Linked DNA regions of Homo sapiens: region 1 is reported to be linked to region 2. Evidence: microRNA targets listed by miRTarBase, many of them from high-throughput screens and not tested one by one. Region 2 holds a microRNA gene; the other region holds the end of a gene's coding sequence.
The links. Region 2 holds the annotated microRNA hsa-miR-3692-3p (GUUCCACACUGACACUGCAGAAGU, at 2,980-3,003, opposite strand). A microRNA usually pairs through its seed, bases 2 to 8, with sites in the 3' UTR of a target mRNA and lowers its output. Matches are read on the target gene's strand: a 7mer-m8 pairs with bases 2 to 8, a 7mer-A1 pairs with bases 2 to 7 and ends in A, and an 8mer does both.

Region 1 (4,000 bases), not on the chromosome of region 2:
ATGGTGTATGGTTTAGGAACAGCCCAAACTTCTCTTATAAACGGTACCCTCTGCCACCTACTAGCCACAGTCCCAAGTCCGTGACCATCTATTTCTATTTTGTCAACTATTAATACTGTAGGGTCATATAGCTTCCAAGATCTTGATGTAGCTGTGAGTTGGCTGGAAAGATGGCAAAAGAATGAAAGTTAACGATTCTTAGATCTAAACATTTCTAAAGTTTGACTGCACATTTGTGATGACTTACTTAATGGTGACAAATGCATTATTTATCACCTATACAGTATCTCTATACTTAAAACATGAAGTGACAATAATGGGTGTATTGACATACATTCATTATGTATGTCATAGCACGTAGCTAGATTTCATAATAAAATGGTGAATGATTGAGCATACTTTTTTCTTTCTGTTACAGAATCTGTTCCCAGCTATACCACCAAAGTGTCTTTTAGCCTTCAACTTTGATATCCATCAGAAGACTGCAAATCTCACTATTCTCTGGAGCTATATATAAATCTTTGTTATGATCATGTCATATAGGAAGAATGGCTTGTGCTTAAGGACAAAGTCTAGAAACCACTATCATAGTTGCTAAAAAAAATGGTTTTCAAATGTCAAATACATGAGTATCTCCCTCCATGGACTGGAGAATTGAAAAATTGGTTTGTATATTGATATTTCCAGGTTCATTTGCATATACTTTTTTCCAAATAATGCACATTTAATATGTTTTAAAATGTCTTATTTTTAAGAATTATAACTAAAAGACCAAATACTGAAGTTAAGTGCATTGTTTTCAGGAATCAAAAGATAAAGGGGCCGGGTGTGGTGGCTCACACCTGTAATCCCAGCACTTTGGGAGGCCGAAGTGGGTGGATCACCTGAGGTCCGGAGTTCGAGGCTGGTTTGGCCAGCATGGCGAAACCCCATCTCTACTAAAAATACAAAAAATTAGCTGGGCATGGTGGCAGTTGCCTGTAATCCTAGCTACTCAGGAGGCTGAGGCAGGAGAATCGCTTGAACCTGGGAGGTGGAGTTGCAGTGAGCCGAGATCATGCGACTGCACTCCAGCCTGGGTGACAGAGCCAGACTCTGTCTCAAAAAAAAAAAAAAAGAAAAGAAAAAGATAAAGGGATTGTGAAAAGAGCATTTATATTGGACTAATCAGATGAGAGTGTTTTGTTATTTTGAAAGAGTTTCTTTTACTGAGAATAATCTTCCTTGAGTTTATATAAACTGCTATTTCCATATGTTTTAAGTTATATTTTGGCAAGTGTAGACTCCCAGGAGAGACTTGTAGGTACAATCTAGGCCTTGAAGAAACAAAGGCTGGAATATCTGCCCATGCTTTGGGCATGAGATGCTCAGATGGTGCGTGGGTAGATCTAGTTGAGGAAGTGTGGGCCTGGCTGTTCATGGGAAGTCTTCAGTGGCCTTCATGGATGGCCATCCAGTCCTGAGTGGTCACCCTGGGGGTCCTGGGACACACCTCAGTAAAGAGCAAAGGCAACGCCCTCAGGGTCCCTTCCTCCAAGATGGCCATGTAGGGTAATGGAGATGACCAGTCCACACTGATAAGGAGTTCCTAGCAAGGCTTCCTTGTGGGTACCACAGGACAACTCTGCCCATAGCAAAGATGCTTCAGTCCAGAGGGAGCCCATGGGCTGTTTGAATTTGGGAGAGGTGGGATTCATTACAAGACTTTGGGCTCTTATGTCACATCACATGATTTGGAGAAATTAGACACAATCTCTTATTTTTATACCACTGTCTTGGGCTAAAATAAACAGGTTGTGGCTGATGGTGTTGAAGATAAATAAGCTTAAACAAATAACTTTGGCCGGGCACGGTGGCTCACACCTATAATCCCAGCACTATGGGAGGCTGAGGCAAGCAGGTTGTTTGAGCCCAGGAATTTGAGAACAGGATTTTGAGAACAGCTTGGACATCATGACGAAACCCCATCTCCACAAAAAAATTCAAAAAATTAGCCAGGTGTGGTGGCATGTGCCTGTGGTCCCAGCTACTCAGGAGGCTGAGGTGGGAAAATCACTTGAGCCCAGGAGGTCGAGGCTGCAGTGTGCTGTGATTGTGACACTGCCCTCCAGCCTGGGTGACAGAGTGAGACCCTGTCTCAAAAGCAAAACAAACAGCAATAACAATATTATTATTGTTATAACTAAAAAAAAAAAAACAAAAACAAGCAGCTTTTGTGACTAAGAAGGAAAATATGCATATAGTGGCATATTTTTATATGAATCATCTCCTCTGTGGTCTTGCCCAGTACCATCCAGTGGAGCTTTCTGCAGTGACGGAAATGTTCTGTATTTGCGTTGTCCAACGTGGTAAACCAGACACATGTGATTCTTGAGCACTTGAACAATGACTGATGTGATTGAAGAACCCATCTTTCAATTCAATTAAATTTAAATAGCCACATTTAACTCCAGCCTTGGGTTTGACCTGATGGAAAATTCCCATGAGAGAGTGCTCCAAACCGTTCCAAGGTGGGGCCAGTTGCGATTCTAAAGGAAGAAGCACTAAATGGCAGGGTGATCAGTCCAAAGCATTTATGAGGGGAGCTTACATACAGCATGGGCTGCAGCGTCCTTGTGATGGGCAGTGAGACAAGGGATGTTCTACCTGGGCATGTCCCCAGCGAGGGGGTTGGGGGATGGAGTTCACATGAAGATGTAAGGAATTTGGGTGGGGGCTGGGCTGGCTTCTACATGTTTAGCAACACGGCTGATCTTTCAGTGTTTCCAGCAACAACCTAAGCACCGTTATCAGTGCCTAGGAATGTTCAAGGCCCAGGCTGGGGTTCAGACCTGCAGAGGAAAACATCAGCTGGCTGGGTCAAGGCACCATGTGTTACTTGGTCAGGACAGAGACAAAAATGAGGAAAACTAGGGGACCCCACACACATGTGGCTACCATACTCCTGAACAGGTCTAGCTAGTTATTTGTTTTTTTGGAAGTTAATCTGGGGTAGAAATGTATGGTGATTTTTATTTTCTCTGTCTGAAGAACCAGCCATTTTTAAAAAGGTTATTATTGACATCCCAATATTTTGTCTTGGTGGGCTTACTCATAAGTCCAAACATTTTATTCTCAACAGGTGTAAAACAGGCAGAGCATTCTAAAACCACATGGTAGTGCTTTGGTGGAGGACTGCTTCCACTTAGAAACAAACTCTGAGAAGTAGGCTAAGAGAAGACAAGAGGGCCGGGCGCGGTGACTCACGCCTATAATCCCAGCACTTTGGGAGGCCGAGATGGGTGAATCATGAGGTCAGGAGTTCGAGACCAGCCTAAACAACATAGTGAAACCCTGTCTCTATTAAAAATGCAAAAAATTAGCCGGGCGTGGTGGGCACCCGTAATCCCAGCTACTCAGGAGGCTGAGGCAGGAGAATTGCTTGAACCCAGGAAGCAGAGGTTGCAGTAAGCTGAGATCCCACCATTGCACTCCAGCCTGGGCAACAGAGTGAGACTCCATCTCAAAAAAAAAAAAAAAAAAAAAAAAAGAGAGAGAGATGAAAAGAGTAGGAAAATGAGAAATCACCTTCGTTGAATCTTAAATAGTTACATTTTTTTCTTTTTAACACTAAAAATACAATTCAAATTTATTAGCTCTACTACTTGAATGATTTTGGAATTTTATGTCATGCTAAGGTATGTGTTACATATGGCCAAGTGGAAAATATATCTGAAGAGGGGCTTTCATACAAATAGACTGTTCATAATTTATGTAAATTTTATTTTAATAAAATCAGTTTTTTGTTTAAAAACCTTGTTTCACTGTCACATATGAAAAAAATACTGCATTGATATATAATTATTTCATGTTACATAATAACCCAAAACAAATAATTACTTGAATATGTTTGTAGAGATACTATTTAATTTATTCATATAAATGTGCAGAAAGATTCCAAAGGAGAATATATATCTTGTGAAAATATGGAGATTTGAAAATTTGACATGATGCAAATAGA
Region 2 (4,447 bases):
GCCCTGGGGCCATCAGGCTGCCTGCTGGGAGGTGGCCCAGGGGTGTGGCTGCTGGTGCCACCAGGAGACGCCTGCTGTGCCTGCTCCTCCTCCCCCAGCGGCTCCTTCCCCAGTGCTTCCATGGCCAGGGGCCCCACACTAGGGCTTCAATTGCTCACCCAGGGTGGGCAGGCAGTGAGCACAGCTTTACCCAGGACTGGGGCCTCTGCCAGGGAGCTGGCACCCCCACGCCCATCCCGCAGAACGAGGCCAGGCCCTCTGGGACAGTCACACTGCACAAAGTCCAGATGTTACCGCTACGGAAAAGTGTCTTCGGCGTTACGAAGATGCAGTAACTCAAGGCCTTTGGGGAAAAGGCACATTTGAGTCTTGGAAAGTTTTTCCAGAGCTGGAGAACAAGTCTACGAGTACCGTGGATGCAGGAGATGACTGAGTCTCCTTCACGCCTTCATTCAGGCACTCGGCACACAGCCACTGAATACACACTACCTGCCAGCAAGCTGCACCATGTGCTAGGAAAGCAGGAAGATCAAGACAAGACCCTCGCTTCCTGGCAGCTCACATTCCAGTGTGGGGGTTGGGGGGTGGGGCAAATCAGCACACTACAAACAAAAGAGCAAGTGTGGAGACACAGGTGTTGAGGAACGGTGGAGGGAACCAACTCAGTGGGCCGGAGCGGGGGGTGTTGGTGAAGCCTTTCTGGAGGGGGTGTCAGAGGCAGGAGTGAGACCTGCAGAGAGGAAGGGTGTTGGCAAGGACAGGGAGCCCCAGACCCTCCCTGACCCTAATGTTTCCAGGCCTCCTTCGGACGGTGCACCGAGTGACTGGCGGAAGCACAGTGTAATCCTCCCTGGACTGGACTCTGGAACGGCATGTCCGGGGGGGGCAGGGGCGTTGTAGGCTGTTTAGTCACTGTGGCATCCCCAGTGCCTCACACACTGCTACATGATAGGCACTCGACAAATATTTGCTGAATTGAATGTTGTGGAATCATCAGAGCAGACCCGGGACATCTGGGTCCACGTTTGGTGGCGAACTGCAAAGCGATGGGTGCAAAGGTCGTCATGCAGGTGAAGCAATGAACACCGAGAGGGACCTGAGCAGACCCCACTTCCGTGTGCTCCAGCCTCTGCTGACAGCGCTCCTCTGAGCTAACGATCTCTCTCCTGGGGGAGAAAAAGGGCCACCTTCTTTCTTTTGCAAAGTAGGAAGAATTTCTAAGTAAATTTTGCTTTACAATGTTTCCCTAAGAATAAAGAGGAATTGAAGATTTTTTTTTTAACATATCCGTCATCATAAACCTCAAGGAATTAGATAATATAGGACCAATACAGGTTAGAAATATCCAGTCGTTCAGACAGAGACACATGTGAGTGCAGAAGGCTAAGCTATTTCACCCACAAACTCACTAAACAATGTTGTTTCCAATAGCAGAGACATCATAATTTGAAAAATAGTACATAATAATTATGCAAAATGGAAATAAGGTGCTTTTGAGTAGAAAAGAAAAAAGGCTACAAAGGTATTTCAGGAGAAAATGGTTCTATTTCCAAAAAGGGGAGAAATAAAACAAGGTTAACAGCTTAAAGCCCACGAGCCCTGTGACACCAAGTTGGAGACTATCAGGCAAAGACAGCTTCAAAAGTGCATATTTGGTAGAAAAATGAACAAAATGAAATTCACTGAAAGTCTTTGGATATTGGGTTGCTGTTGGGGCTGCCGATTCATTTTTTCCTTCTCTAAAGGGACACAGCATTCATTCACAGATGATTCCTTTATCTCACCTAAAACAATGCCCGTGGTATCGACTATTATCCTTGGCAAAGTGCCTTTGCATTAAAACATGGTGACAGCATTTCTCGGCCCTGATGTTGGGGAGAGTTCCTACCATGTAATTATCCAGCTCAATTAGAAGACAAGGTCAGAACAAACAGATCCAGAGGGAAGGTCCATGCCTGCTAGACACACAGATGTGGTCCCACATCATTTTCTTTTTTCTTTTTTTCTTTTTAGGTAGCCTGTTACTGTTTCATACACATGGTTTTCAAAGTAACAGGCAGCCAGATAGTAAGACTGCAGGGAGCAAATGAAAATTCACATTTTTTTGATTGAGTACCTATATTGCAGGCAGTTTCACATATAACATTTCATATAATGTCTACAGAAATGTACACAGCTAATTGTCTATGACATTGGTATTACTGAGACCATCTCACAGATGAGGAAACTAAGGTTCATTAATTTGACTGATAAGACTTATAAGAGGTTCATTACTTTGAGCCTGGTTTAGCTAATAAGTTTCATAACCAGAAGTCAATCAGATGTGGCCGCCATCAAAGCCCATGGGCCCAAGGCATGGTCTCTCAATTGTACCACAATGAGGCCTACACTTCTGTTTTGCACTCTACACATTTTCTTAGTGGAATACAATAACAGCTGTACCTGTTTTCACCTTTTTATAAGGATCTCAATGATCCTCATTAAATGTAATTAAGAACACAGTGAAACCTGAAACTATTCTGCGTGAAGGTGCCTTGTCCAGTCTGGGGAGAAGACAAGCTCGGAGTCTTGGGTGACAAAGTCGCTCATTGATGGATTGCCAGCAGTCTGGTAGTAACGCCTTAGTGACTGAAGGTCAAGAACATTTCTCTTGGGCTCCGCTTCCCAATTCCAGTTGAAGAATAACAAGCTCTGTGGTTTCTACACAACAGAAACCACAGATTCCCAGGGGCCCTGTCAATCAAGCTTGACACTAAATGGTGATGACTGCTCCTGTTATTGCAAAATACATGTATACTAAACAAAGACCGTACTGGTTAGTTTTGCTTAAATACTGGAGGATTCTGACCAGTACAATGCTAAAACATAAACTTTCATTTATGAAAAAAGATAAACTTTCTAAAATTCCCAGGTTATACTCAAGAAGTAACTTGCTCCCTGTGAAGAGAGGGTGGGGTTGCAGAGACTCCAGAGATCTCCACTTCTGCAGTGTCAGTGTGGAACTGTATCTATTGCTCCAGTATCCACTCCTGACCAGCAGGAATGGCAAAGAACCTCAGAAGAGTACAGGTGGTAGGTGCTGAGTAAAACTGGAAGTCTGAGTGTGTCTCCTAGACACTAGCAACTACAAGGATATACTTTCAATGAAACTCTTTGAACTCATTGGGAGAAACCTGAAAAATACCATGTGCTGTTGAGGAATTAATGCCCACTCCCACCCCCAGTCTTCATCTAATTATGCTTTTATAATTAATTAATTAATGCCCACTCCCACCCCCAGTCTTCATCTAATTGTGCTTTTTAAATTAATTAATTAATGCCCACTCCCACCCCCAGTCTTCATCTAATTGTGCTTTTTTAATTAATTAATTAATGCCCACTCTCACCCCCAGTCTTCATCTAATTGTGCTTTTTAATTATTTTATTTTATTTTATTTTATTTTTTTGAGATGAAGTCTTGCTCTGTCGCCCAGTCTGGAGTGCAGTGGTGCGACCTCGGCTCACTACAAGCTCCGCCTCCCGGGTTTTTGCCATTCTCCTGCCTCAACCTCCCGAGTAGCTGGGACTACAGGCACCTGCCACCACGCCTGGCTAATTTCTTTGTATTTTTAGTAGAGACAGGGTTTCACCATGTTAGCCAGGATGGTCTCGATCTCCTGACCTCGTGATCTGCCCGCCTCAGCCTCCCAAAGTGCTGGGATTACAGGTGTGAGCCACTGCGCCCACCCTATCGTGCTTTTTAAATTAATTGATTAATGCCCACTCCCATCCCCAGTCTTCATCTACTTGTGCTTTTCCAAGTATATTCATCTATGGTTAAACTTTCATATCATTTCTTTACTTTTCTTTTAAGCCACACACTTCTGAGATTAAAAAACAACAACAACAAAAAAACTGTTCAGCTCATTTTGAAATACAACAGAAGTATTCCTGAGGACTTCCCCATGGCAAACACGATTATTAACTGATTACTAAAAAGAGAAGGGCAAAAGGCAAAATAATGGACATTAGATCTAGGGAAAAATGGTGGAAACAACCTTAAAGAATACGGTGGAGAAACATCTGGAAAAAGCATATTTAATTAGAGAACACCAAGAGGGACTGAAACAAAGGAAATCATGCCTGGCTGGCCTGATGGAAGGCTTGGAAGGTGTGACTGCCATGAAAGCTACAATCAATTAAATAAGTGCCACCTTTCTTGAATTTTGCCAAGCAGATGGCAAAGTTGGAGAATCAACAGGGAAACTGCAGAGTGATACAATGGAGAGAGAGAAGGATCAGAAAGCCCCTCCTACAGCTACATCCCTATCCCTCTTAGGCTTGCGTCATACATTGTCCAGTTGGCTTCAACATTCAGAATAACTGGAGCCCTAAAGAACTGTCAAGTTCTGAGAACAGTCTTTCCATTTCCAGAAACAACTTCCTGAGAGACCGTTACATGGCTGCC

Region 1: the mRNA of LRRC2 is a reported target of hsa-miR-3692-3p. Seed matches in the 3' UTR shown: 7mer-A1 at 3,699-3,705.

The regions. Positions count from the first base shown.
Region 1 is chr3:46,515,482-46,519,481 of GRCh38, reverse strand. It overlaps LRRC2 (leucine rich repeat containing 2), which reads left to right. Exons shown (of 9, transcript NM_024512.5): 9 at 419-4,000. The coding sequence ends at 468. Among named protein-coding and RNA genes, the nearest start is that of RTP3, 20 kb to the right of the region's middle. RefSeq lists a silencer at 2,189-2,483.
Region 2 is chr6:157,527,731-157,532,177 of GRCh38, reverse strand. MIR3692 (microRNA 3692) reads right to left here and starts at 3,046; the gene lies at 2,978-3,046. The region is part of intron 1 of ZDHHC14 (zDHHC palmitoyltransferase 14); the gene reads right to left. RefSeq lists enhancers at 1-523, 524-1,429.